2 separate regions of the Homo sapiens genome follow, and region 1 is linked to region 2. Evidence: fine-mapped expression QTL. Tissue or cell type: whole blood. Region 2 holds a variant in brackets; the other region holds the start of a gene. Each region is shown on its reference strand, or each on the opposite one.

Evidence for each region. PIP is the estimated chance that this variant, and not a neighbour inherited with it, causes the effect. A credible set is the group of variants that fine-mapping cannot tell apart.
Region 1: it holds the start of TPPP3, and the variant in region 2 is the best candidate, but not a certain one, in a credible set for the expression of TPPP3 in whole blood (TOPMed, PIP 0.58).

What each region holds. Positions count from the first base shown.
Region 1 is chr16:67,388,882-67,402,953 of GRCh38, forward strand. TPPP3 (tubulin polymerization promoting protein family member 3) reads right to left here and starts at 4,617. Exons shown (of 4, transcript NM_015964.4): 1 at 4,499-4,617; 2 at 2,043-2,236; 3 at 1,598-1,751; 4 at 928-1,481. The coding sequence starts at 2,230. The coding sequence ends at 1,293. It overlaps ZDHHC1 (zDHHC palmitoyltransferase 1), which reads right to left. Exons shown (of 12, transcript NM_001323627.2): 4 at 12,076-12,251; 5 at 10,474-10,575; 6 at 9,939-10,063; 7 at 9,692-9,850; 8 at 9,331-9,443; 9 at 6,603-6,685; 10 at 6,306-6,399; 11 at 6,121-6,181; 12 at 5,271-6,012. The coding sequence ends at 5,729. It also overlaps the pseudogene RNU1-123P.
Region 2 is chr9:124,216,560-124,232,543 of GRCh38, forward strand. No RefSeq gene overlaps it. Among named protein-coding and RNA genes, the nearest start is that of NEK6, 33 kb to the right of the region's middle. RefSeq lists enhancers at 472-551, 1,461-1,620, 2,191-2,550. The variant T/C (reference allele first, on the strand shown) is at 7,020.

The DNA.
Region 1 (14,072 bases), not on the chromosome of region 2:
TTTTGGAAGTCAATGCTGGGGCTTGCTAGAAAGAGCCTGGCCTGGGAGGCAAGAGGCATGGTCTGGCCTCTAGTCTGCAGAAGCCCCTCCACCTCTCTGGATGTTTCCTCAGCTATAAAATTACGGAGTCAGATGAGCTACTCTCTTTTTTTTTTTTTTTTTTTTTTTTTTTTTTTGAGACAAAGTGTCTGTTGCCCACACTGGAGTGCAGTGGCGTGATCTCGGCTCACAGCAACCTCCAACTCCTGGATTCAAGCGATTCTCCTGCCTCAGTCTCCTGAGTAGCTGGGAGGGACTACAGGCACGCAACACCATGCCCAGCCAATTTTTGTATTTTTAATCGAGACGGGGTATCACTATGTTGGTCAGGCTGGTCTTGAACTCCTGACCTCATGATCCACCCGCCTCAGCCTCCCAAAGTGCTGGGATTACAGGCGTGAGCCACCGCGCCCGGCCTGGATGAGCTACTCTCTAAGGTTCTGCCTGGCCCTGCGTTTTCTGTATTCTGAGCCAGAACCCAAAATGACTTGCCTCGGTAGCCCCTGTTCGCAGACTGAAAGCTGATGCCTGGCTCTGGGGCCTCTGCCAATGCTTGGCCCAGGCTGAGTCGGCTGTTTCATCCCTCCTACTGCTGTGAAAGTGGAGAGGGGGCCAACTCTCCAAACCCAAGGCACTGGTCACAGGAAGGCAAGCTTTGATGTCAGGACTCCCGTCAGGCCCAGCTAAAAGGCTTTGGACTTCCCCAGGAGTCTCCTCAGACAGAATGGCTCTGTGCTAACAGAAGGGGACTCATGAGTGCCTTTTTCTGGGCAAGGCTGCCAGGGGAAGGGGAGTGATTAGCAGTGTGTGGCATGCAGCGGGGTGATGACACTGAGGGGGTCACTGGAGTGTGAATGTCATTCCCCCATCATCGTCAACCAGGCCATATTGGTACAAAAGGTGTCTTTATTGAGGTCTGGGTTAAAATTAGGCACTTGGCCAGAGCAGCAGCTTAAATATGAGGCAAGCAGTCAGGGGTTAGCCATGCCTGGGGCTGGGTTGGGGTCATGAGGCTACAGGCACAGACTGTCCCCAGGTGGACAGAAGTTGGAGCAGGAAGAGGAGGAGGAAGGGGCCGCAGAGCAGCCTGGGTCAGAGGCCTGGTGGGCCAGCCCAGTGGGACTAGGCAGGAAGCTCTGGGTGGCAGGTCCAGCAGGGAGGGGACCAGGATCTCTTGCTCCACGTGCCCCTTAGACCCAGGCCTGAGCCTCTGGCAGGGGCAGCCGCACTTGGCAGGGCGGTCTTCCCAAGCCTCACTTCTTCACCTTGGCATCGTAGGTGCCTGCATTCTTGTAGGCGCTCACGTAGCCACTGTCGTCCAGGATGTCCTGCCGTCCCGCAATGCCCTTGCCCTTGCCGCTCTCATCGAAGCGCTCCTTGTGGGAGCCCGTGTATCTGCTGGTGTCCGTCAGCCGGTCTACAGCACCCCCTGTTTTTGCTTTCTGTTTGGACAGAGTTTCCCCAGGGGCACCTGATGAGGGAGCCCAGCCCTTCCCACCCACAGCCACGATTCCCCACACCCCATTCCGTGGCCACCCGAGACCAGCAGGGCACTTACAGTGACGCCCACATTGGCTGGCTCTTTGCCTGCCACCAGCTGGCAGATGGCATCGAAGGCCTCCTCCTTGCTCTTCCCCTTGAATCTCTTGGTCGCCAGCTCTTCCAGGGCCTTCTTGAACTCCTCATAGTTGATGACCCGAGCAGACTTCCCCCTGACAGGCATGTGGGCACCATGAGGGTTCCCCTTTCTTTTTTCTCCCCCAGGGGAAAGCTCAAACACATTTGCTGCCACCACAAATTATGCAATTGCGTTTCTTTCCCACGTTTGGGGAAGTCGCAGGGGTCAGCAACTCTGGAGGGCAATAGATATAAGGTTTGCCCTGGAAGAACGACCTTCGTGATCATGGTGTTTCCCTGACCCCTTCTTGATGTCCTCCCTGGTTCCAGCCCCCCAGTTCCCCACCTCCTGGGAACATGAGAAGCAGGGGCTGCTTAGGGCTCACTTGACTTTGGAGAAGACGATGTCCACATCGGTCCCTGTCACGGACTTTCCGTCAGCCACCTTGCAGTCCTTGCACAGCTTGGCCCAGTTCTTGCCATTCATCTCTTGCCCACTGGCCTTGGGGTCACCATGGATGGCAAACTTGCGGAAGCTCTCCTCCAGCCCAGCCATGTCTGTGCTCGCTGCCATGCCACCCTATAGAGACCCACCTGGGTCATCTCCCAGCCAATCTGCCCTTCCCCTCCCCCAAGCCCAGAACATCCCAGCCTCTACCTCAAACCTGCAAGACCTGGGCAGGTTCTGCTACAGAGTTGGTGCTGGAGCTGCCTGGGGAGAGGGGCCCGTCACTGTCGCCCTGGGCCACAGAGCCCCAAGGAAGAGCCCCGGGAGGCACGGTCTTGTCACTAATGCCAGCCCTGGCTCTCAGCAGGGTTCAGCAGATGAAATAATGATGCCCACAGGGAACAGAGTGGCACTGTCCAGAAAGACTGTTAGGGCAGCAGCTGGGGCCCTGGCTTTGTCTGGCCCTGGCACAAGGCCTTGCTTGGGTGGAAGTGAGGGTGGCAGAGCAGGCCCCCTCCCTGGAAGCTCCATGCCAAGCTGGCTTGGGGCCAGGCCAGGCTGCTGGTCGGGCAGGCATTCAGTGAGGACAGCATCTCTGTAAGGGTCATGAGGACCCAGCAAGAGCCAGTCTGGGCACGGGTGCATGCCCTGGGCAGGGGTGCAGCTGGTCCAGCAAGGCCTTGTTACTATTTGCTGTTAAACAAAAACATGAGGGGAGCTTGGGGCTGGCCTGGCCACAGTTTGTGAAGCCTGGAGACGGTTGCTAAGGGAGGGTGGTGCTGCTTGGAGAATGTTGCTAAGGGCAGGATGGTGTCAGGGCAGCTCAGGGAGAAGCTCCCAGTGCTGAGGGGCTGGGCTGGGCTGGGAAGCTGGGGCCCACGGGTGGGGCACGCCAGCACTCCCTGCGCCTAGGGCATAACCGTGGCTTCCTGGCCCCTTGCCACCGACTGGTGCTGTAACCTCCCACTGTGGAGTTTTGGGGGAGCAGGAGGTTGGGGGCTAGTAGCGTGGGGGCTGTAGAGTTACGAACCCCAAGAGTCGTGCTGGCAAGTGGGGCTGTGGCTGAAACACACTTCATCATGTCTACACCTCAGACCTCCCCTGGCCACGCCCTGAACTTGGCCACACCAGCCCACATTCCCAGCGACCCTGTGCACTCAGCCCTGGCCTGCCACCCCCTGGGCCTTGTACCCCTGGCCATACCTTCAGCCCTCCATCCTCCATCTTCACACCCACAGCCACAGCCCTCGGCCACCAGCCCCCACATATATACTAACAAGCCTGCGCCAACCCCAGTAATACCCACAGTCCAGCACTAAAGTGCCCCCCACACCCACAGCCCTCCGCTGCAGACCCCTGGCCACACCCTGAGCCTACACAGCAGCCTTCTCCATCCCCACACCCGCAGCCCTGGGGCTGAGGCCCCTGGCCACAAACCTGCATCCCTTCCTGAGACCCCTGACCATAGCCTCAGCCACTCACCCCCTCCAATACCCGCAGCCCTTTATCAAGGCGCCCTGACCCTCAGCACCCCTTTGTCCACACACCCTCAGCCCTCTGGCCACACCCTCAGCCTGCACTGAAGGCCCCAGTCCACATCCACACACTAACATTATAAGACTCCCAGGTACTATGCGGAGATCCCCTGCGTAGAGACCTCCCCACCACATCCCCCTCCTCCACTGCCACCTCCTGACCACACCCTCGGTCTCAGCAACCATCTTCTAGCTCTGCCTTTTACACTAGGGCTTCCAGTGACCACGGCCTGGGCTCTGCCCGGCTGCCCCATCTTCCACCAAAAACTCCTCGCCAGTGACCACACTCCCATCCCTAAGTGGCAGTTTCTGGGACTGTGAGCACCGGTGGTTCCTACGTTACAGGGACCATAACCCCAGTCCACGCTGCACTCCCCTTCCCTTTCCCTGGGTGCAACCTCCCACCAGGGACCCCAAGACCCGCACTTGGTTCACCAAGGGTAACGTCCAGGGGAGCTTGGATGCCACAGGGTGCTTGGCCCAAGCACTGGGCGGATCCTGCGTGCAGTGCTCACTCCTGTCCGTGGAAAGATGGATTCTTGGTCATCTCAGCGCGGTCAGGTGGCGCTGGGTTGCAGGCCGCAGCCCCATGGGTCTGCAGGCCATGGATGGAGTGGCCACACCCGTGAACTGGAGCCACCCGTCCCGCTCCCACTGGGACAGCTGGAGTCATCAATCAGCCGGACCAGGAGGTGGGGGCTGCGAGGTGGAATGCTTGGGGCCAGGGCAGGGCCGCTCAGCTGGCTCCTCGGCTGGGACCGCCGGAGGTTGGGACCCTTTCCAGGCTGCTCCCCCCAACCCTCATCGTGCAGGATACTGATTGGGGTGGCGGGCATCTGGGTCTCCTATGGGCTTCTACCTCGCGGCTGCTCCTGAAGTGTGCGTTCGGAAGGACAGAACGACGCAGGAATGGACCGATGGACGCGGGAGACCAGGCGGCTCCGCAGCTCCGCTCCCTGCCGGCTCCCGGGTGGGACTGCAGCCCAGGCGGCTCCGCCGTATTATCCCCTGTTTCTCGGTCTCCATAGAGACGGCGAGTCCCACCCCCGAGGCTGTCTCGGCGGGAGAGTGACCAAGGTCACGCCGGCCCCGCCCACGAGGCCCCGCCCTCCCCGAGACTCTCCGGGAGCCGCATCCCGCCCCTCCCCCGCAACTCCGCGGTCCTCGCGACGGCGAGACCAGCGCTCTGCAGTTCGGGGCGTCTTCGGACGGCCCCCTGAGGAAACAGCCTCCCATCCTGGGATGTGCCTAAAGCTCTAAGCGGCCCCAATCTCCAGAAGAGATCCAGCTCCCCAGAGAGTCAACCAGAGGCCACTGGGGAGCTGCGCGGGGCATTGGTGGGGCTTGGGGAATCGGGAAGGAGCTCTCCCTCAGTGACAGGGGTATACGGTTGACTCAAGAGCACTGCCATCCACTGAACGGATGGCACCCCCAGGCCACAACTCCCGTGCTCTCTTGGGTAGGATTCAGAGCCTGGAGCAGTGGGGAAGAAGGGAGGGGACTCCCTACGAGCGAATCGCGCTCGCCCAGCCCCAGGATGCTGGCATTCGACGGCAGCCCTGCTGCCGGGGAAAAGCTGCGGGACCTCCTGGCTCGGCCCCCTCCTTTCGCCGCCACCTCCCCACGGCCTCGCAGCCTCAGCGCCCACTGCTGCTTTCGGAGCCCAAAGCCTGCTTTCTCTCGGCCTCCCAGTGCAAAGCCCATCTTTAAGAAAAATAACCTCCTCCAGGCCGCCTTCTAAGGCCTTTCCTAACCACGAGCCGCACGTGAGCACCTCCACAGGGCAGCCTGGGTGGCTACCTACTATACAGGGACCTCCTCCCCGCCCCCGGTCCACTGGCCAGGGTCGGGCTTCTGGATGGCCCGTGGCCCCTGCCATTAAGAAAGTAAGCGCGACGTCCGCAAAAGCATAAAAAAGTTTATTGGAGCATCACAGCCGGTGGGGCGGGTATTGCTGAGTCGTGGGGGAGGGAGGCCGATCCCGCCGGCCGTAGGGGCCCCTAAAGTGCACTCGGTGCGGCAAGGATGGGGTGTTGCATAGAGAGTCAGGCCGGCCGCTCTAACTCGGCCCTCCGGCCTCTCGGCCCAGCTAAGCCAGACCAGCCTCCCGGCCGCCCGGCGCCCTGGGCTCGCCGCTGCTCGGGCTCACGAAAACGGCGGGCGCACGCGCCTGCCGCGCCAGCGTGGGCTGTCGGCCCCGGCCCCGCGGGGCGGCCAGAGCGGCGCTGCCCAGGCGCGTCTGCGCCACTGGAATCTCGTCCACGGACTCTGCCGACGCCGAGTGGTAGGCGCCGGCAGGGCCAGCGGCGTGCACAGGGCTGGCGTCCGCGGAATCCGTCGACGAGCTGGAGCGGCGGCTGGGGGCCCTAGGCCCTGCGCAAGGGAAGGGAACATGAGCCCAGTGGCTGCGGCTCGCTTGTGGCTCTGCCTTCCCCTCCCTCGAGTTCCCAGAGCAGGACCCGGACAGGGAGAGGCGCTCACCCGACGCCGGATCCGAGGTCTCAGACGTTCGCACTTTATACACGCGCCTCTTCCTCTTTTTCTGCAGAGACACGGGGGAGCCTGAGGGCCCCACATCGCCAAAAGAAGCAGAGGCGAGCGCCAGGGTAGAGGCTTCTTTCTATCCCACTCCACCTGGACCGGAGGCCCAGCACAGTCCCTCCTACCTGGGGTCGGATCCGGGGAGGCAGGGCGAGAGTGTCTGGGGAAGAGGGTGGTGGAGGTTCCGCTTGGCCACGGGTGGCAAGAAACTGGGAGGGACTGAGGGGGAAGCAGGAGGGTAAGCCTGGGGCCTGTTCCCCAAATCCCTCCCCACTGGAGGTGCTGAGAGAAGCTTCCCTTCCTGTTAGCTCAGAGAAGGGCCTGACCCATGCCCCGACCTTAGCCTACCCCCTTCTCCTGCCTCGATGGCCCTGCCATGCTAACTGGAGATGCCCAGTGGCACATGCCCAGGTTGCACTCACTTGGCATTCACTGCTGCTGGCCCGGCCTGGCCAGGGGGCTCTGGGCGCATATGTCTGAAGGTCCGCATGTAGAACTCCATCTCCTGGGGAAGGTGGAAGTCAAGGAGGCTGGGAGGCCAGGTGTGGCTCCCGAGCCTGCTGAGCCCTAAGCCCACGCAGTCCTGCCCTCATTGGCCTCTGTGGGATATCTCAGGCCTCATGCCAGGCTCCCAGCCATGCTGGGAAAACCCCATCTGTAGGGTAAGGCTTAAAACACCCATTTCTGGCCCTTGCCCCATCCCCAGGTCCTTACCTCATCTATTCAGCCTCTGCCTCCTGCAGGAAGGCTCCCAGCCCCCATGGGTCTATAGGCCCAGTTTAGAGAGGCTCAGCCAGGGAGTGGTGGGAAGCTCAGAGCTGCCCGCACCTGCTCCTGGTGTCCCCAGGGATCCAGCCTCTGAACCAATTGTTTTCCCCTGGCTGAGAAACAGGCCTGAGTGTGCATCCACCAGCTCCCGCAGAGCTGAGTCCTGGGCACACCCCTCGCCCTCACAGAGGACCAGCCACGATCCAGGCTGCCGAGAAGGGGCTGCGTAAATGCACATGCGGTGGTCTCCCTGCCACTACACCAAAAGGGAAGGTAGCAGGTGGTGGAACAAACAGAGCCGCAGCCCCACTGAGCACCAGGCTTATGGGCAAGCCCTGATCTTCACAGCAACCCTGAGGGTGCAGACGCGACCCCTGAGAGCAAAGGGGCCTTGAGGCCAGGGGGTTGCAGGAGTGGCCTAGTCCTGCACCCCCGCCCGCAGGACTCGCCCCAGCTTTGCCCAGAAGGACTCCAGGTGAGGAAACAAAAGCCTGGGGAAAGCAGGCCCGGGAAGGGCGTGGTGCGAGATGGGGGCGGGTCCCGGGCGGGGTGGGAGCCGGGAGGGGTTGCCGGGAGCACCCGGACAGCTGTCGCCAGTTCAGCAGCCGTTTCCATGGAGACGGAGGCGTCCTGACTAATGCAGAGAGGACACTGTAACAGCAAGGCCGTCTCTAAAACAAGCCTATGTTTGGGGGCAACGGCTCCAGAGAGGGGCCCCTCCCGCATTCCTGCTGGGGTGGGGGTGGGTGGCTGCCTGCAGGGCCCTGACAGATCTGGGGGAGGAGCCCAGCCAGCGGCCCCGCCCAACCTCTGCCCTGGCTGCTGCTCTGGAGAGGGGTGTGGGGGCGCCAGCCTGGGCCGAGGAGCGCGGGGTCAGGGGTCAGAGGCCAGTCACAGGGACTGGAAACCTCAAGATCACTCTCCCCCACACCTCTTTTCTGCCCCAGTGTGGACTCAGTGACCCTCTAGGGCCAGCAGAGGGGCAAAGCCCACTGGGGGGCCCTGGGCTCCAGAGGGGGGAGCAGAGGAGGGGCCAGCAGTAGAGGAGGTCTCAGAAGCTGAGGGGCCTGGATGGGAAAGGCGCCAGGCCCTAGCCAGCTCAAGAAGTCTGAAAGCGTCCCCAGTGAGTCCCCACTCAGAGCCCTGTCCTCTCTCGCCATGGCTGTCCAGAGGATACTGTCTCAGAGACCTTCAAAACCGTGTACATTCCTGAATGGTACTGGGCCCTCAGCCTCAGCTCTCTGCTTTGTAAAAGAGGACAAGAACACCACTCCTGTCCCCCGGGTTTGCCTCCCTCAAGTCACTGCAGATGGACAGAACAGAAATTAAATGTCTTCGCTGTGGCCACATTTGGCCCCAAAGCCTTGGCAGCGCAGGGCCAAAGAGCCCGCCCTGCTTCAGTGGGTGCTGCCTATGAGGCTTGAGAAAGTCTCCTGCCTACTTCTCTGGGCCTCCGTCTCCTCTTGATGTGGGGCTGGAAACAGTACCCTCTCCCCAGCACAGCTGCCACCATCAGAGCCCAGCACTGGGGCAGGTATACGGTGGTGTAACAGTGGAGTCGCCACCCACAGCCAGCATGCCCCAGGCCCAGGCCTGCCCAGTCCTGGCAGCCTGGCCCACAAGTAGTGTCCAGCCCTGGTGACAAGAACAGAAGAGGTGGGGTCCTAGGCCCTCCCCAACCCACCCACCAGCCTCTGTTTGTGTCCAGTTGCCATGAGGCCTCGGGATCCAGGGCTCAGCCTTCCCCCAGCAAAGCCTGCCCGGGCCCCGCCTTCCTAGTCCCTAGGGGCTCCTTTGACGACTGGATCACCCCCACCCCAGCGGCTGACCTCAGGAAGCCATGGGGCGTGGGAATGGGGATAGGCTGGTCAGCCACTGGCCTGGCCAGGCCGGCCAGAGCGTAGAGACCTTAACTCTTCCCAGACCCAGCTTGTGGTTAACCTTCTAGGCCTCAGTAGGCACATCTGCAGAAGAGGCTGTTCTAAGCATAAATTAGGGTAATGGGTATAAGCGCTCAAGGTCATGGATGAGGAGAAGTGATGGCTCCATCCTGGCCACCCATCACTGACCCCGTCGCTGGTCCATCCCTCTCTCTCCTGCTGCAGCCCCAACCTGCTTGCTTCCAGGCTCCCACATCCCATGCCCTCCCGCGCATGCTTGGCGCCTGGGCAGGTGTGTACGTGGGGTCCGGGAAACACAGGGCTCCCTCTGGCTGTGCCCACGCTTGGGCGAGCAGGCACACGCTCAGCACAAGCCCGGTCCCTGCTGCCCCCAGCGGCTGTTCCAGGCTTGCCTCCCTTGCCCTGTCTCCTCACTGGCTGCTCGCTGCACAGCCCAACACCCCCCACACCCAGGCCCCCTCCCACCCTTCATCCTCTATACCTGAATGGGCCGCATCTTGGGAGGACATGACTCGAGCTCCCTGTGAACCCCCTTGGCCTCCTGTGGTGGGCGGTGCTGCACGATGTACTCATAGGTGGTGAGCTTGTGCCACACTGGTGGGGGGAGGAGAGGGCTCAGTGCGGTGGAAGGGGGACTCTGGAGCTCAGAACAGGAGGGAGGACAACCAGCCCCAGGCTGAAACCAGTGTCCCCAAATACACGAAGCCATCAGGTGAGACCTGGCCACCATAGTGAGCCCATACTAGGCAGGGGCATGGTTTCAGGGTCCACCGTCCAACTGGGCACCTTCCTGCAATCTGAGGACCCCTGCGTTCCAGAAGGCAGGTGCAGGAGGCACTTACTGAGATAAATGTGGAAGCAGAGCAGGTGCCCCAGGAGGGCTGTGGACAGGAGGCCCAGAAGGATGAGCAGGGCGGCCAGGGCCAGGATGGCAGGGGCCTGGGTCTCCACGGGGGCGGCAGGCAGGAACACGAACCACACATCCGTGTGATTCTTCAGGACTGCAAGGCACAGGCAGTGTGTGCTCAGCCGGGGACGTGACGGGTGACCAGGGTTGGGGGTGAGAATAGGCCCGGAGCCTAAACTGACCTTCAAAGTGTCGGTTGGTGCGCAGACGCATGGGGTTGACAAAGAACTCCACGAAGACATATGTGGCCACCAGCACCAGGAGCAGGACGCCCAGTAAAGCGGATGCAACACTGTGTAGAAAGAGCCTGGGCCCAGCCATGGGTCGCTGTCAGCTCCCCGGAGCTCCAGCCTCAGAAGGCCCATAGGAGTTGGGGCTGTAGGGTCATTGCTATGGGCTCAGAGGGCTGAGGGTGACCCCACAGCCCCAACTCCTCAGAAGCCAAAGGCATACGGCAAAACTGAAGATGGGTGGCCACCCCATCAGGCAGCCCACATTTCTCTGGGCCAGCTTGGTGGAAGATTCCAGGCCCACCCTTGGCCATCTCAGCCGGCACCCAGGAGCATCACTCTCTCTGGGCAGCACCCCCGCATAAAACGGGCACAGGTCCTCGAAGCATCCCCATCCCCGCCCGCCTGCCATGCGAGCTGCAAGGTCTGTGGCTCCCACCCTCAGACAGTGCATCCCCAGGCCCGCGTGCGGCCGGGCTGTCCTCACCGGTAGTTCCGCTCGCCCACACAGTTGTTGAGCCACTTGCAGTGGTGGTCGAAACCGCACACGCACTTGTTGCAGGCGCTGCAGTGCTTGGAGCGAGCGCTCCTGCAGGGAGAGGGGGCACAGCGCGATTGGCCGGCTCATTCCCCGCTCTGCGGCCCGGCCGGTCGGGGTGGTTGAGTGGGGTCTGTGGAGGGACCAAGCGCCAGGCCTGAGACAGCCCCGAGCGAGGCGACGAGGAGCGCGCGCGCCCTCTGCAGGCGCTGCGGGGTGGGTCCCCTGGAGGAGGCAGCGCTCCCGAAGAGCTGGGGGACCCCAGAGGCCGCAGGAGGGGTAAGGAGGTGCACCCCTCCTGCTCTGGGATTGTGCGCCTAGCTGATGCGCCATGAAACAGAAAATGGGCGTCCTTTCCAAGCAAAGACCCCGAGAGAAGCCAGAAGATGCAGGTGTGGGCCCAGGGAGCTGCAGACAGCAAGGCTTGGGCCCAGGGCCTGCACTGCCCTTCCCGACACCTCCGGCAGTGGGCCCCTGTTTCCCTGCCATTCTATAGGAATGGTACTGGCATTTTTCCAGAAACTTCAGTCTGTGTGGACTAAGAGAAAAGAGGCAAAAGAAGTGCAGGCTGCCATCCGCGTGAGCATGCAGGTGCTCACCACAGGGGCTCAGGGGAAGTCTCCCAGCCCAGGGAGGCACCGGGGAAGGCCCAAAGGCACAACCCCTCCCCCAGAACAGGGCAGAGCCCTGCAATGGGCAGCAGCTGCTGGAGCAGCTGCTCGGAAAGTGTGCTGGCGGGTGCCCAGTGAATGGCAGGATGGCCTCATGTCCAAGTCCTTGGCGCCTTAAGGCTAGGGGCTTGCTCAGTCTGCAGACAGACCCCTTCAACAGGCTTCCTGGTGGGGGCTGGCCTTGGGCCATATCCCCATCCCTGATCCCCCACCCGAGACCTGGAGACTGGGGGGCTCCAGAAGGGTGGAGAGGGGCCCCTAGAGAGGTAGCTGGGACCAGCCAAGGTGGCGGGGCGCAGCACGTAGTGACTCCTCCATGTTAGCAGAGGGACCTGAGCAAGCCAAATGGCCCCCCTGGGCCTCAGACTCCTCCTGGGTAGACCCCAGGGCAGCAGTATCTGCTTAGGGGCCTGGCCGGCCAGATGTGAATCTGGCTCCGCTATCAGTGGCTGTGTCTGGCCTATCAGCCTTTCTAAGCGCTGGGCTCTTCCTCCTCCATGAAGTGAGAAAGCCATGCGGGGTGGCTGCAGGAAGAGCTCAGCACACAGTGAGTGTCAGGCATCAACACCCCTGCCCACCCCTATATGGGAATACTGGCGAGAGATGTGAGGGTGTCACTGGCAGAGCCGCTCATTAGAAATGTTTGGGCAGGGCCAAATGTTTCCTCCTTTAACTGCTGGAATACTACTGATCTTCTGTTTCCAATCACCTTCTCCTCACCTTCTCAGTAACCCAATACTCTGTCACGCCATCAAGGTTCTTGACTGCATAAAACATGAGGGTTCTGAGGCATCAGGGATGTCTGTGAAGCCCTGGCACCCCCTCTCCACCATACACCCCACAGCACACTCGGCAGCCACAAGCACCCACACACACTCACACATCCACGTTGCACAAGTTGCAGTGCAGGTCTTCAATGACATGTGCGTGCTGGCTTCGGTTGAAGATGGGCAGGGGCCCCGCATAGCTCTTGTCCCGCACGTTGGCATCTGCTGGATCGATGGAGACGGCGGTCAGGTGCACCACAAGGTGGCCAGCAAAGATGGCGCCCATGCACTGGCCCAGCAGGTTAAAGACTCACTCCACTCTGCCGGCTGGGAGTCCTGCCCCGTTCCTTGCAGCCAGAGAACTCCCCACTGCCATGCCAGCCCGCTTTGTGCAGATTCTCTGCCTCTGCCACCTCCTACCTCCAGTCCCCCAAAGCCTCCTCATCAGACCTCTCCAGGTAACCCCTATGCCCCAAATGGAAAGAGGGAGAGGCCATCTAGGAAAGGAGTCCACAGCCAGCCAGCAGTGCCTGCTGTCGCCACCTAGGTGCCCAATCGCAGGGTCCTGGCCTCACTGCTCCAGGCCTGGTGCAGGCCCTGGCTGGTCTGACCTCAGGCTGGTTTCTGGTTTCAGATTCCAAATGGTGATGTGAGACTGAAAGAGATCAACCCCACCTAAGGTCCAAGAACCTGAAGTTTAAGTCCCAGCTTCCTTATCTTGCTTTCATAGGAAGTCACCTCCAAAAGGGATGCAGCCACCCCCCTTTTCAGTAGCTGGGCCAGATGGAGAACCCCTTGCAGACACGGATTCGGACACTTGCTACCTCCCCTACCAAGAATCTAGGCACCTGGAGTCCTGGGCTGAGTGTCTGGAATGGCCTGCCATGTTCAGGGCCTGGCCAGGGACAGCATGGCTAGTCTCTGAAGCTGAAACAGCTCTTCCAGGATCTAACTGCTCAATGACTGGGCCAAATGCAGGAGACAAGTTTGCTGACAATTTGCTACAAAGTCTGATGTTTAAAAATTCACCCATAGATTCCACCCAGGCAGCCATCCACTCTCCCTCCCTTGATCACACCCACTTCAGCCCAAAATTCCACTGGTCCTCTTGCTAGCCAGGCAGACATCATCCCTCCATCATTCATGCTCTACCCATCATCCATCTGCCATCCTTCATTCATCAGCTGTCCAATCTCTTTTCCTCCCTTCCTCCTCCTCCCAGCAGCCAAATTTCTCTACATATCTGCATAAACCAGGCTCCGCCCTAATGTGCCATAAGCATAGCTAAGAGAGACAATCCTGTGGCCATCACTACCCCTTCTATCCCTATGGCCAAGTCTTCATCTCTTGCCTGTGCCACTCTATAGCCTCCCAACTCTGCGCCTTCTGTCTGAGTTCCCTTGAGTCTATGCTTCACATGGTCTCAGAGTAAGTTTTTAAAAGCTCAGACCCAAAGCCCTCCCTGCTTGCAACCCTACAGTGGGTCTCAACAGCTCTCTGACTGAAATTCACTCCTCTGCTCAGTGCTAAGGTCCCTTTCCCTCTGGCTCCTCCCAAACCTCTCTGCTATCACCAGCTACTGTGCTCACCATGCCATCCACTCTTCAGACACTGAATGAGGGCAAACATTTACTCCCTGCCTGCTCCAACTCTTCTCCCGCCTCACCCCCAGGGTCATTCATTCAGCTGTCTACTGAGGTCTTTTGTTGTGACAGGCATTGAGGGATACGGCAGGGGCAAGAGTCCCTAGCACTGAAGAGACTGCAGTCTGGTGGAAAACATGGAATTTTTTTTTTTTTTTGAGATGGAGTCTCGCTCTGTTGCCCAGGCTGGAGTGCAATGGCACGATCTTGGCTCACTGCAACCTCTGCCTCCCAGGTTCAAGTGATTCTCCTGCCTCAGCCTCCCGAGTAGCTGGGACTACAGGTGTTCGCCACCACGCCTGGCTAATTTTTGTATTTTTAGTAGAGCCAAGGTTTCGCCATGTTGGCCAAGGCTAGTCTCAAACTCCTGATCTCAGGTGATCTGCCTGCCTTGGCTTCCCAAAGTGCAGGGATTATAGGCATGAGCCACCACTCCTGCCCAAAAACATGGATATCAATCAAATAAT
Region 2 (15,984 bases):
ACCGTTGGGCCTCATGTCACAGATGGGGACATGGCCTGGCAGGGCGAAGGGACTTCAGGAGATCATACAGTAAGTTAGTGTCACAGCCGGACTTGGAGCCACATCTCCCAGCTTCAAGGCTCCCTGTTGTGCTGTGGGGAAGGGGTGCACAGGGCTGGCCCGGGGACAGGGCCTGTTCCTCACTTATGAGTGCCGTGGGCTGGGGCTCAGAGGGTGACTTGGTGCCTTGTAAGGGGGCCAGGGGCAGCTGTGGGTGGGGGTGTCCGGGGATTACTGCTAAAATAAGTAGCAGCTTCCTCTGAAACGCCTCTGTGGTCTGTGGAGGGGAAGGAAGTGGAGGACCGGAAACAGGGGAGGCAGAGAGGTGAGAGGCTGAAACTTCTGCCAGCATAGCAGAGACCAAGCTGGGCACCCCCCACCCACCCAGACACAACAGTTGGCCTCTGCCAGGCTGCAGCCTTGGGGCTGCAACCAGGAGGGCCTGGGAAGCTCAGGCCCAGCCCTAATATGGCCACCCAGAGGCTAGAGAATCCCTCTAGGTTGCTCCTGGCTGGCTGGGCTTCTTCCCTTCCTCAAGACACCAGTCACTTCATGCACCATTCTCTTTGCCTGGAATGCCCTTCTCTACATTTTCCTTTAGGGCCCAACACCAATGTCACCTCTTCTGGGAAGCCTTCCCTGACCACCCACCACACACACACACACACACACACACACACACACACACACACACAGAGAGAGAGAGAGAGAGAGAGAGAGGCAGGACAAGACAGCCACAGACCTTCATCATGAATAGTGGCATTCACTGTGACAGTGGCGTTCATCCAGTGCTTCATGTTTATGAACTGCTCTGCATGGATGATCTCATTGAATGTTTACAAAAACACAATGTGTGGTTCTATCAATAGCTTCATGTTACAGACGAGTGAACCAAGGCTCAGAGATGAGCAACTTCCCCAAGGTGGCATAGTCAGAAAATGGCTGAGTGGGGAGTGTGACCCAGGTCTGACTCCACAGCTAGGTCATTGAACCATGCACTATCCTCTGAGACTGGGATGGGATCAGTGTTGTGCAACTTGCCTGCTCCAAGGAGGCTGCATTGTGACCCTAGCAAAGCTTCATTTTCAGCCTTGCCCTTCCCAGCACCCCTGGAGTAGCTGGGAGCTATAGAGTACTCTAGGGAGAGAGGGAAACCAGCTTGTAATGAGGAAGCATTTCCATGTAAACATTTCTGGTAAACTGTGTGAAGGGATCTCAGAAGTATCTCCAAGCCCTTGATACTGTCTTGGGTTTTGTTTTCTCCTTCTAAATAAATGCTTTTGAATCTAATTTTGTATTCTGTTTCTACAGATGGGGCTTCCAAAATTGAAAAGCTTCAGACTTCACAAATCCTAGGTCCACCCTGCGGTGCCCTGTGACTTAACCACAACCACTGCACTGCCTGGGCTTCCCCAGCCCTCTCCAAGGCCCGCTTTCACTGTACCGGGGTTTTCTATTTATGGATCCGCCCTGCTACCCGCCACTCCCACAACCCCCACCCATAGATGGGCCATGAGCTCCTCATGGGCAGAGGGCGAGCCCTGGTTTCTTGGTACCCTAGGGACTGCTTGGTATATAGAAGCCCAGGACAGATTTGTTACATGAGGGAATAAAGGAGTAAATGAATGAGTGAATGAATGAATATGGGTCCCTTCAATGCCATCAGGAAGTATGAGAGATACAACTCCAGCTTTAAAACTCCAGGTCAGCTGGGTATGGTGGCTCACCCTTGTAATCCCAATACTTTTGGAGGCTGAGGTGGGCGGATCGCTTGGGCCCAGGAGTTCAAGACCAGCCTGGGCAACATGGTAAAACCCCATCTCTACAAAAATTAACTGGGCGTTGTGGCATGCACCTGTCATCCCAGCTACTCGAGAGGCTGAGGTGGGAGAATTGCTTGAGCCCCGTTAGTGGAGACTGCAGTGAACTGTGATCGCACCACTGCACTGCACTGCAGCCTAGGCGACAGAGTGAGACTCTGTCTCAAAAAAAAACTCAAGGTCCATCTCCCTGTGTGCCAACCCTGCATGGGTGTTGAGGGTGACTGACAATTTGGACAGGGTTCAGCTGAAGCCAGTCTCTAGCAAGGAGGCCCAAAGCCCCTCCGGTCACTCTGCTCCCTACAGAGGCAGCACTCTAGGCCCCAGGCCTGGACCTCAAGGCTGCAGCAGGGCCCCTGGCCGCCCCCTATAGCCTTGGAAGCCCCTGAGAAGAGGCCCTTCAGTGCAGCTGCAGCAGGTCAGACGCCTCCTCTGGAGAAGAAGGAAGTGAAAGTGCTGTGGTGGGTGAGTCATCGGAGTGTCCCTCTGGACGGATTGATGCCATGAGTGGCATAAGAGGGACAGGCTGGGAGGGAAGAGACACCAGGGTTAGGAGCCCTTTTAGTATCCTCCAGGAAGGCCCCACCTCACCTCCCAGCCCCTCCCAGACACAGGGGTCTTCAGCTTGGAGAAGAGAATGCCTTGGAGATGCCATCTTTGTCCTAGTCTCTGAAGTGGGTAGAAATTAGACAAGGTCCACAGCAGAGGGGGAAGATGGAGTCAGATGGGGAGGTCACAGAGGCTAACTGGTTGCCACCAGGGCCAGGCTCTGGTGGGCTGGCTGCTGCCTGGCAGTAGTGATGGCCAACAGCAAGTAGGGTGGTCTCCTGCCATGGGTCAGGATGTGGATTCTGGATTTGAACCTCATGTCCTCAAACCCCAGCTCTGCCCCTCATGAGCTGCAGGATCCCAGGCAAGTGGCTTCCCCTCTCCTTCCTCTGCTGTCGAGTGAGATCATAGCACTTAATGCATAGGATGAGCAGGGCATGATTAGATACATTACTGTATGTAAAGTGCATAGAAGAGTGCCCGTTCCCAGGAAACCCACAATAAACAGTAACTACTGTATCAGGCAGCATCTCATCAGGAAGCCTGAAATGCCCTAGGTTTTGAACAGAAGGGATTTAATACAGGGGCTTGTCTTCCAATGGAAGGACTGAGAAACAAAACAGGGAATGGTGCAGCCGCCCAGGGATAGGACTTTGCAGTCATATTCTACTTCCTACTGATGCTCGTCCTCAACCTAGTTGCTTTATGTCTCAGAGCTTCAGTATTTTCACATGTAAAAATGGGAATAAAAAGGACCTTTTTTAATTTATTTTTTTATTTTTTAGATGGAATCTCCCTCTGTCGCCCAGGCTGGAGTGCAGTGGCGTGATCTCGATTTGCTGCAACCTCCGCCCCCTGGGTTCAAACAATTCTCCTGCCTCAGCCTCCCTAGTAGCTGGGATTACAGGCATGTGCTACCACACCCGGCTAATTTTTGTATTTTTAGTAGAGACGAGGTTTTGCCATGTTGGCCAGGCTGGTCTCCAACTTCTGACCTCAGGTGATCCGCCCACTTTGGCCTCCCAAAGTGCTGAGATTACAGGTGTGAGCCACCGCGCCTGGCCGATATTTTTTTTTGAGACAGAATCTCACTCTGTCTTCCAGGCTGGAGTGCAGTGGCGCGATCTCGGCTCACTGCAAGCTCCGCTTCCCGGGTTCAGGCCATTTTCCTGCCTCAGCCTCCCAAGTAACTGGGACTACAGGCGCCTGCAAGCACGCCCAGCTAATTTTTTGTATTTTTAGTAGAGACGGGGTTTCACTGTGTTAGCCAGGACGGTCTCCATCTCCTGACCTCGTTATCCACCTGCCTCAGCCTCCCAAAGTGCTGGGATTACAGGCGTGAGCCACAGTGCCCGGCCGATATTTTGTTTTTAAGAATGAAATAGGATAATGTAGGTAGAGTGTTTGGTAGAGTACTGGCTCAGCGTAAGGACTCAACAATGATCCTAGCAATCGCTTATGCAACACGCTAGTTCTCATGACAGTTCTATGAAGCAAGTACTGTGATCACTATGACTCCTATTTAACAGAAGAGAAAACTGAGGCATGGAGAGATCAAGTCACGCAACTAGTAAATGGCAGAGCTGATCTGAACCAAACTGTTGGGCTCCTAAGTCCCACCCTTAACCATTACACTATGCCCCCTTCCCATTTCACCATCAACAGCTCTCTCCCCAGTCAGCCTCACTCAAGCTCAACGCCGCTCTCCTTCTCAGAATTTTACCCAGGGCCTCCAACTCAGATCAATAACCAGCATCTGCTCCCAAGGGTAACACCTGACACCTGACTTCTCACCTTTTTCCCAGGCCTGGGGCCCTGGAGTCACCAGGGTTTGAGTCCTGACTTTGCCCATTTTCCAGCCGTGGAGCTTGTAGAAGGCACTTCTCTTCCTAAAGCTTCCGTTTCCTCCACTGCAGCATGGGGAGGGAGGCTTGTCCTAAATTTGTTGGCCTGTGGTGGAGACAATTTGAAGCCACACTCACGGAGCAGGTCACACTGGAAGCGTATGTGTGTTCAGTGTGTTCCCTGGAAGCGTATGTGTGTTCAGTCCATGAAACTCTGATCAACAGTTAATCATATCCCCAGAGTCCTGGGGACACTGCCAAGTATTTCTTTGCTTTTCCCAACACGTTCTCAGCCCCTGCAGTGTGCATCGTGGGCAAGTGTGCTGGGCAGTCCTGTGTGCTTGCCCCTCTCCTGCAAACTGCTTTTCCCAGTTTCCTTTGCCAACTGGCTTCCTGTTAGGTTGGGCCAAGGGGAAGCACTGGCAGGAGATTGGAGCATGGGAGGAGGGGACAATCTGGGTATTTCTCCCTCCCTCTGCTTAGGGAGGGAGTGGGAGTGGCCTTTCCCCAGCACAGGCTGCTCTCTTCTGTGTCTTTGGCTGCTCTAGAACCACCCGGTCATCTGCAGTTCCAAGTCTCCAGGTGGCTCTGATGATTCAAGTTACTCCTGGGCAGTATCACTGCCTCTTCCTTTTGTCTCTCCACCCCTAAGTGGTAGCACCTTTTGCCATTGTGGAACAAGCACTTGCCTCACCATTTGCTGTTTGGCTTTTCAGCTCTTCCCTCTTCCAGGTAACCAATTCCCTATATTAAATTTCCTCTGTTGGAAATACCTAGAGTGGTTTCTGTTTTTCTGACTGGCCTTGAATTTTACAGCGGGCATCTTTGGCCCAAGAATTGTCTCTCTCTTCTCCACTTACAGAGTTTTTATCCTAGAGGGGCAGCATCAGACCCCTGAGGGCATGTCACAGGCGGGACTAATGGAAGAGGCTCTAGCTCCTTCTAGCTCTTTGCAGTAAACTTACTACAAGACAGCAAAGCTTTCTCATGCTACCACTGACTGTCTCTTGTGACATAGGTGGAGTAGCATTGCGCTACTCTGCTGTCTCTCTACTTCACCTTCCTGAAGACTTATTGCACAAAGGGTGGGTGGAGCTGTCGAGAACCAGGGGAGAGAAGAAAGTAGTGAAGGGGGCAAAGAAGCCCTTCCTGGCACACTAGCAAAGTGCCTAGTACAGGGGAGGCATTCAGCAGGGTATCCATTCCTTCCCCTTCAGCATCTGTTGAAAATCAGGCTGGAGCCTCAAATATTGGAACCAGCCCTAAGGGGAATGAAGGCTCGTTCTGTGTCAAGACAGCTGCCCCAGGGTTCCACTCCTTAAGGAACAAAGGAGTGGGGACAGACTCCTTTCTGTGAGTAGAGGGGTGGTACTGCCTCCCACCTAGTGTCTCTGGGATTCCTTTTGGAGGCTGCTCACAGATGTCCTCCCACCTTGGCCTCCCCACTCCCATCTGCCCTTCCAGGTTCCCCGGCAGAGGTCCCATCAGTCAGTCCCCTCCCTCCAGCCCATGGTGGTGGCTCACCAGACGGAAGACAGTGGGTCCCTCAGGCCCTTGCTGGGCCTGCCCTATCCCAGGATCTGGGTCCCTAGCTTCATCTGTCACTTCAAAGCTTCCTGTCCCTCAGCCAGGGACTGAGGTAAATTCTAGGCGTTCTGGGCTCTCACTTTCCTCATGTTTGCATGTTCTTTGTGACGCGGTATCCAAGTCGCTGCACAGGTAGGAGGAGCCTGAGGGCTCATCCAGTCCAACCTCCTCCTATGCAGTTCAGATGGGAAAACTGAGGTTCAGAATAGAGACTTGCTGGAAGCATGAAAGTAATTGACAGGTTGGTAGGGGCACAGGGGGTGAAGCGTGTGACAAGCTGGGCCAAAGCTCCAGGGACACGGGTCCTACACTGGCACTTGCGTGGACATCCATGTTACCTGCACTCATGTGTAGTAAAGAGGTCATGCGTGTTTACAAACCATAGTACCACCACAGAGACCACAGGCCCAGCAAATGGGGCTCACACAGGCATGCACACACACACACGTATCCTTGATGGTAAACATGCCCACCCACCATTGTGCACACATGCGTGTATTTACACCCACATGCACACTCATCGGCACACAATCAGAGCCACACACCTGCACGTGCCCCCACAGAATCACACGTGTGTGCAGTCTCACCTATCTGCACTCTGCCATGGGCCCCATTACATACATGCATGCAAACAGATAACACACACGCCTATCAATAGCCAGGATGACTCACACACGAGGACACACATCATACCCTCACAGACTCGTGCATGGACCACCCTGCAGTCACAAAGCAGCATCCAGCATCCGACAATCTGCTGATGTCACTCCCCTGAGAGTAACCATGGCTCCATGCATAGGCAGAGGCAACTCAGCTCACAGGTGCCGCCTGTCCACATGCAGACACAGACACACACACACATACACACACACACACTCTGACAGTTCCCCAATGGCCAGCCTCCTCCACTGACTCCCCACAGCCAGGTGCTCTGACACCCTCCTTGGTGGGACCCTCTCTCTTCAAGGCGCCCAGAGCCACCTGGCTGTCCTTGGAACTAAGTGAGCACCCTGCCCACCCCCAGCCTTGTCCCCTAAACTGGGTGGTTTAGGTCTGAGGGGTGGGGAGAAGGCTGCCCAGAGTCCAAAGTTCAGGGGCCAACATCTTGTTTGCAGGCGCTGGTGGAAATTGCACAACCTGCCAGCTGGGTGACTTGGGCTTATTGTCTCTGAGTTCCCCT[T/C]GGCTGCAGGCCCAAGCCCAGCCAGTGACCTGTTTCTCTGGAAGAGGGTGGGGAAAGTGGTTCCTCCCTCCCCTGCCTGGGGAACTGGTGGCCCTCCCTGGGCACTGGTGGCTGGTCCCCAGCTATGTGTGCAACACACCTGACACTGAGATGCACAGAACTCAGCATCCAACCTGTCCTTTCCCAGATAGGAAACTGAAGCTCAGGGAAGGAAAGGCTTGCCCAGGGTCACCCAGCAAGGAGGCCCAGGAGGACTGGAACTCAGGCTCAGTTTCCTTTCTTTTCTTTTCTTTTTTTTTGTGATGGAGTCTCACTCTGTGGCCCAGGCTCGAGTGCAGTGGCGTGATCTTAGCTCACTGCAACCTCTACCTCCTGGGTTCAAGCGATTCTCCTGCCTCAGCTTCCTGAGTAGCTGGGATTATAGGCACGTGCCACCACACCCAGCTAATTTTTTCATATTTTTAGTAGAGGCAGGGTTTCACCATGTTAGCCGGTCTGGTCTCAAACTCCTGACCTCAGGTGATCTGCCCGCCTCGGCCCCTCAAAGTGCTGGGATTACAGGTGTGAGCTACCGCGCCCAGCTCAGTTTTCTTTCAAACCCTTTATCAAAAGAAATATAATCCAAAGCCAGACAGTACTAATGCAAATGAGCAGAGCTACCGTGGGTGCAAAAGGAAGGGACCCCAGAGCCCGTGAGTAGAGACCACTTTCCCTTTCCACACCTACCGTGGCTAAGTCAGTTAGTCAAAGGGTCACTGTGCCATATCACCAGATCATTGAGCTTAACAAATCTATCCCGACTTAAAACATTTTATTTATTTATTTATTTTTGAGACAGGGCCTTGCTCTTGTCACCCAGGCTGGAATGCAGTGGTGCAATCTCAACTCACTGCAGCCTCAACTTCCCGGACTCCACCCATCCTCCTGCCTCAGTCTCCCAGGTAGCCGGGACCACAGGCATGCACCACCACACCCGGCTAATTTTTGTATGTTTTGTAGAGATGGGGTTTCGCCATGTTGCCCAGGCTGGTCTCAAACCCCTGGTCTCAAGCGATCTGCTCACCTTGGCCTCCTGAAGTGCTAGGACTACAGGCATGAGCCACCCCAGTGAGCTTTTTTTCATTTTGTTTTAATTTGTAAAAGTTCCCACTGTGTGCATGAAATGAATTAGCAAGGCCATCATGGCTACGGGGGGTCAGGATCTGGGGCCTTCAGATCCCTCTCACCTCTGGGACCTGCAGCCCAGACTGGGCTTAGATCTCTATTCTGTTCCCCTCCAGTGGCAGCATCAGGGACATGGGGTAGAGACAAACTGAACATTCCTGAAAATCCAAGAAATCTTCTAAAGCTTTAAAAACCCATCCCATGCCTGCCTGTCTTTTCCCTCTCCCCTTCGCTGCCTTTCTGTATCTCTCCCTTCTTTCCTTTCTTCCTCCTGCCTGCCTACCTTTCTCAGTGCATCCAGTCAAAATCATGAGGCTCGAGGATGACAGTCACAGTGGCCCTTGTGAGGCTGGACCTGGGCGGCAGCCTGCTGCAATCAAAGATGGGTATGCACCGGGGCAGAGCAGAGGTATAGCTTAGCATGGACAAGAGGATTCAGGTTTCTCCTTGATGAGGCAGGGAGGCACAGATGCAGAAAGGAGGAAACCAGCTGGGTGCGGTGGCTCACGCGAGTAATCTCAGCACTTTGGGAGGCGGAGGCAGGCGGACCACCTGAGGTCAGGAGTTCAAGACCAGCCTGGCCAACATGGTGAAACACCGTCTCTACTAAAAAATACAAAAATTAGCCAGACATGGTGGTGTGCACCTGTAGTCCCAGCTACACAGGAGGCTGAGGAAGAAGAATTGCTTGAACCCGGGAGGCAGAGGTTGCAGTGAGCCGAGATTGTGACACTGTACTCCAGCCTAGGCAACAAGAGTGAGACTCTGTCTCAAAAAAAACAAAACAACAACAACAAAAAAAAAGCCAGGTGCAATGGCTCACACCTGTAATCCAAGCACTTTGGGAAGCCGAGGCGGGCGGATCACTTGACGTCAGGAGTTCAAGACCAGCCTGTCCAGCGTGGTGAAACCTGATCTCTACTAAAAAATACAAAAATTAGCCATGCGTGGTGGCGTGTGCCTATAATCCCAGATACTCAGGAGGCTGAGGCAGGAGAATCACTTGAACCCAGGAGGCAGAGGTTACAGTAAGTCGAGATCACACCACTGCACTCCAGCCTGGGTGACAGAGTAAGAATCCGTCTCAGAAAAAAAAAAAAAGGAGGAAACTGAAGAAGCCCATAGTGTTGGGCTGGAGTTGGAGCTCTCAGTGAGAACACATGGTGAGAATCTGTGTTTATGTGGAGAGAGAGAGAATATAGACAGAAAGGTGTGTCTATATATATACATGTATATGCACCTGCATGCATATGTGTATACATATATGCATATTTGATGTGTGTGTGTGTGTGTGTATTTTCAGCTCTGTTCACCAAGAAGGTATGGGAGCAGCAATGCTCTGGTAGCAATGAACATACCCAGTGCCAAGATCTTGTTTTCAAAATGCCATTTGGAGGAAGGCTGAGTCCTGGCTGGGAGAGAGGAAGAACAAGATGAACCTGGAACACCTTGTTGTGGCAAAAAGTCACTAAGCATTCAAAGCATAGTGTGGACATGTCAAAGGGACACAGGGGCCAGCTGGATGGGGCCACACCAAATCTGGTGTAATTGAAAAATCAAAATTAATAATGATAGCAATGAATGATAACCCACTGAATAAAATAGAAACCCCTGACTCCAACTGCTATAAACAAAAAAACGAATAAGTAACCGGACAGAAGAGAAAGCTTTTCCTGACAGTAGAATGTCAAATCATACAGAAAGAAGGAAAACCACCTTTGTCAAATATGATCATAATTATTATTTCAGGTAAGAAACATCGATGGAACCAGGTTAAAACTAGGGATGTAAATGGAGTGAAGAACAGGATATTAGCTTAGCACTGGAGCCCGGGAGTTCCAGTTCAGCCTGGGCAATATAGCTTGAGCCTATCTCTAAATAAATAAATAGACAGAAAATGAACAATTCTAGGAAAAACAGAAAGCTGCACAAGAGAATAAATGCAATCACAGTACTCTACATTGCTGGGCTATCAACACTGTTCACATGGCCACAAAATAAACCCCCAATATTTATCTAACCAAAAATTATGAGATGAGATGATCATATAAGGAAGATGGTACCAGGGGAAGTAGGGGCAGCGTGGTATGGGAAGCAAATTCTAATCTTCCAAAGTAAGAAGAGAGTAGATTATACATAAAACTGAAAGTCCAGAAATAACGGTATAGACATGTGATAACAGTGGAAGCATAAAGGCAAATAAAAAAGAAACTTGTTTCTTGTTAAAAAGCAGTTACCTCTGATGGTTGGGAACTGGGAGCAAAGATGGATTAGACAGGAGACAGCTGTTTTTCATTGTTAAGTCTTGCAGAACAAAATGCATGTAAAATTTTTTGAAAGTGAAATCAAAATATAAAAATATAATTAAAAGAAATACATGTTTAGGCCAGGCACAGTGGCTCATGCCTGTAATCCCAGCACTTTGGGGGGCCGAGGTGGGTGGATCACTTGCGGTCAGGAGTTCGAGACCAGCCTGGCCAACACGGTGAAACCCCATATCTACCAAAAATACAAAAATTAGCCGTGCGTGGGGGCACACTCCTATAGTCCCAGCTACTCAGGAGGCTGAGGCAGGAGAATCACTTGAGCCCAGGAGGCAGACGTTGCAGTGAGCCGAGATCATGCCACTGCACCCCAGCCGGTGGGGCAGAACAAGACTCAGTCTCAAAAAAAAAAAGAGAAATACATTTTGAGATAAGCAGTAAATTTGGATAATTGGTTGAGTTGACCATTTAACAAAATCTTCAAAGGATCCTTCAGATGCTAAAGTTCTGATAAGACAGAAAATTACTTTTTTTCAGAGGTTTTTAAAAACAATCAGTCTAAAAGCTAAAGTTCCCATGTGATACTGTGAAAAACATATTCATAGGATATTATTTAAGAAGAATAGACTGGGTACAGTGGCTCATGCCTATAATCCCAGCACTTTGGGAGCCTGAGGTGGGCGGATCCCGAGGTCAAGAGATTGAGACTATCCTGGCTAACATGGTAAAACCCTGTCTCTACTAAAAATACAAAAATTAGCTGGATGTGGTGGCACATGCCCGTAGTTCCAGCTACTCAGGAAGCTAAGGCAGGAGAATCACTTGAACCCAGGAGGCAGAGGTTGCAGTGAGCTGAGATCGTGCCACTGCACTCCAGTCTGGTGACAGAGCGAGACTCCATCTAAAAGAAGAAGGAGGAGGAGGAGGAGGAGGAGGAGAAGGAGAAGGAGAAGAAGAAGAAGAAGAAGAAGAAGAAGAAGAAGAAGAAGAAGAAGAAGAGGAGGAGGAGCACTAGAAGAGCAAATGTATTATGAACTTTGGACAAATTAAATAGTCCTTAAAATGGAATATAGCCATTGGAAGAATGTACATTAAACATAATTTTAAAATTTTTCTTTTTTTTTTTTTTGAGACACAGTTTCACTCTTGTCACCCAGGCTGGAGTGCAATGGCGCAGTCTCGGCTCACTGCAACCTCCGCCTCCCGGGTTCAAGTGATTCTCCTGCCTCAGCCTCCTGAGTAGCTGGGATTAGAGGTGTGTGCCACCACACCCATAGAGATGGGGTTTTGTTCGCCATGTTGGCCAAGCTGATCTCGAACTCCTGACCTCAGGTGAATCACCCTCCTCGGCCTCCCAAAGTGCTGGGATTACAGGAGTGAGCCACCATGCCAGCCAAAAAGAATATTTCTTAAACAAGTTTTTGAAAAACCAGTCAATTCGGTAATATGAGGCAGTGGTCCTTCAATGAGTTTTGGAGAACTGCCTTTTGTCCAATCGGCCTTTGAAGGTGTGGCAGCTTCCCCTACACCTGAAAGAGGTCCCACCCCAGGACACAGGCCCTGGCCTTGGGCATGGCAGGCCAGTCTCCCCCAGACCCACCCACTGACAGCCTCCCAGCAGGAGGGAACTCACACTCCTCACAACAGCACTTTGTGGTGTAAATACAAAACCCCATTTTACAGATGAGAAAATGGAGGCTTGAAGAAGTGAATTGACTTGCCCAGCGCCTCATAGTCAAAAAGTAATCAAACTGGACTTGGCACACAGGTTGACAAACCCCAAGGCCAGGATTCTCTCCTTGCTCCCCCAACCCTTGGATCTCCCACCTGCTGGCGCCAGACCTAATTAGGAGCTCTGCTGGCCCCTGAGGTGGGTTGGGAGGTGGGTGTGTCATTAGATTGTGAGATTCTGGAAGCTCCCGCCATGTGTCATTATGTCTAATTACATGAGTTCAGGCTTCTGCGTGGGCTGGTGGAGCCAGAGTGTCTCCGTGCCCAGGTGGCCAGGGAATTTCTGCAGCCAAGAAGTGGATGAGAGGCCGCTGAAGGACCCCGGTAACATGTTCCCCAAATCTCCTGGAGAAAGCCGAGTTCCAGGCCCCTCCCGGAGGCTGAAGGGTGGCCCCGATGGGGAGTTGGGGTCTCTCCATGCTTCTCGGGGTGCACTTAACCAGACTCCTACCTGGGCAGGGAATAGAGTAGAAGGAAATGGCTGCATGAGGGGCACAGCCCCTAGTCCCCTCATCCCAGCCCCAGACGGACAGACTCACACATGCATATGCACACACAAAACACAGAAACATGGTGTTGGAACAAATATCTGGACTTTTTTTTTTGGTAGATGAATCTGCTCTGTCATCCAGGCTGGAGTGCAATGGCATGATCTTGGCTCACTGCAACCTCTGCCCCCTGCTGGGTTCAAGCGATTCTCCTGCCTCAGCCTCCCAAGTAGCTGGGATTAAAGGGGCCCACCACCACACCCAACTAATTTTTGTATTTTTAGTAGAGACGAGGTTTCACCATGTTGGCCAGGCTGGTCTAACTTCTGACCTCAGGTGATCCACCCACCTCGGCCTCCCAAAGTGCTGGATTACAGGCATGAGCCACCATGCCTAGCCAAATATCTGGACCTTTGAGTAAAGAGCTGCTTACACTTTCATCAGTTCCACTGGGTGTTCACTCTGGGGGAAAGGCAAGTGAGAAGGAACATGGAATAGGGACAGAACGTGGTCACTGTCCTCCCTAGGCAGACATGGGTGAGGGAGGCGATCTTTTGCACGTGCTCATTTAATAAGCAGGTATTGGCCGGTCATGGTGGCTCATGCGTGTAATCCCAGCACTTTGGGAGGCCGAGGTGGGTGGATCACAAGGTCAGGCATTCAAGACAAGCCTGGCCAAGATGGTGAAACCCCAACTCTACTAAAAATATAAAAATTAGCCACGCGTGGTGGCGGGCGCCTGTAATCCCAGCTACTCAGAAGGCTGAGGCAGAGAATTGCTTGAACCTGGGAGGTGGAGGTTGCAGTGAGCCTAGATTGGGCCACTGCACTCCAGCCTGGACAGAGCGAGACTCCATCTCAAAAAAAAAGAAAAAAAAAAAAAAAAGCAGGTGTTGAGTGACTTCTGTGTGCCAGGCATTGTTCTAGGCATTGGGGTTATAAAATAAAGTCCCTCTTCTCAAGGGGAGAGAGACAATAACCATACACTAAATATGTAATGTACCAGATGGTGACAAGCAGAGTGAGGGTGAGGGGCCACTGCTCATAGATGATTATCTGGCTGGAGAAACAGTCAAACCTTTCCCCACTGACTTCCCAAACCCAGAGGATAGATGGAGAAACGACTTGGGGAATAGAAAAAAGGACCCACCTCCCCAGGTGCCTTCTCCTCCTTCTTCTCTTCTCCCTCTCCTCTAATGTTGTTTTTCCTTTAAACGTTACTTAAAACAGACCAGGCTCAGTGGCTCACGTCTGTAATCCCAGCACTTTGGTAGGCCGAGGTAAGAGGATCACTTAAGGCCAAGAGTTTGAGACCAGCCTGGCCAACATTGCAAAACCCTATCTTTATGAAAAATACAAAAATTAGCCAGGCATGGTGGTGTGCACCTGTAATCCCAGCTATTTGGGAGGCTAAGGCACCATAATCGCTTGATCCTGGGAGGCGGAGGTTGCAGTGAGTGGTGATCAGGTCATGGCACTCCAGCCTGGGTGACAGAGAGAGATTCTGTCTTCAAAAAATATACAAATAAATTTTTTTAAACAGTTACTTAAAACATACGGGAGGTGTAGAAAATTATATGACAAATACTCATGTACCCGCTACCCCTGTTAAAAAATGAAACTTTAGGCTCGTAAAAAAATAAAAACTGGCTGGGCGCGGTGGCTCATACCACGGCACTTTGGGAGGCCGAGGTGGGCAAATCAAGAGGTCAGGAGTTCGAGACCAGCCTGACCAACATGGCAAAATCCCGTCTCTACTAAAAAGGCAAAAATTAGCTGGGTGTGGTGGCATGTGCCTGTAATCCTAGCTACTCAAGAGGCTGAGGCAGGAGAATTGCTTGAACCAGGAGGCAGAGGTTGCAGTGAGCCAAGATCACGCCACTGCACTCCAGCGTGGGCAACAGAGCGAGACTCTGTCTCAAAAAACAAACAAACAAACAAACAAACAAAAAACTTACAAATATAATCAAAGGTCCCCATGTTAGCCAGGAAAGGCTAGGTTATGCTGTAGTAACAAACAAACCCCAAATTTCAGTTGCTTTAAACAACAAAGGTCTGCTTCTATCGCATTCTCGATCCAGTGAGGGTTGACTACATTGGGCTATGTTCATTGTAGTCTCTTAGGAACCCAGTCTGAGGGATGCTCCACTATTTATGATGCTGTGATCTCAGCAAAAGGCTTCAAGATTCACCAGGTAAGGAAGGGAGCAAGAAGACTCAGGTGCTGGCTCTTAGATGTTTCCATTTGGAAGCGGCATGTGTCAGTTCTCCTCACATTTCATTGGCTAAAGCAAGTCATGTGTCCATGTCCAGCTTCGAAGGGGAAGTGAAGTATAATCCTCTCATGTGCTCAGAAGAGAACTGACATGGTGGTGAGCATTGTTAATATCTACCGCTTTTCTTATCCCATTTCCATCTACCCTTCACTCCCAGCAATAAGACCCATCTAGAAGTTGTTATGCATCCTTTTCACCTGTGGATTTTAAAAAACTTTTAGTATGCCTGTATACATCAACAAAGAATATATAGAAAGAAAGCCAGGTGCGGTGGCTCATGCCTGTAATCCCAGCACTTTGGGAGGCCGAGGCAGGCAGATCGCTTAATGTCAGGAGTTCGAGATCAGCCTGGCCCACCTGGTGAAACCCTGTCTCTACAAAAAATACAAAAATTAGCCAGGTGTGATGGCACATGCCTGTAATCCCAGCTACTGGGGAGGCTGAGGCACAAGAATTGCTTGAACCCAGGAAGCGGAGGTTGCAGTGAGCCAAGATCGTGCCAATGCATTCCAGCCTGATTGACAGATCAAGACTCAGTCTCAAAAAAAAAAAAGTATATATATATATATATATATATATATATATATATATATATATATATAGAAAGAAATCACAAAGAAAACTAGAAAATATTTTGAGCTGAATAACAATGAAAATGTAACATATCTAAGCCTATGTGATACAGATAAAGCAATACAATAAAGGGAAAGTTATAACATTAAATGGCTTTATTCAAAAGGAAGAAAGTCCCAAAATAAATACATTTGCTAAGCTTCCACCTTTAGGAACTAGATAAAGAAGAGCAAATTAAACCCAAAGCAGGTAGAAAGAAAGAAATAATAAGATAAGAGTAGAAATCAATGACTAGAAAACAGAAAAACAAGAGAGAAAATAAATGAAACCACAAGCTGCCTCTTTGAAAACATCAACAACATTGATAAACTTCATCTTCAATCAGTAGAAAAGAGAAAGTCACGGGCCAGGTGCAGTGGCTCATGCCTGTAATCCCAGCACTTTGGGAGGCCGAGGTGGGAGGATCACG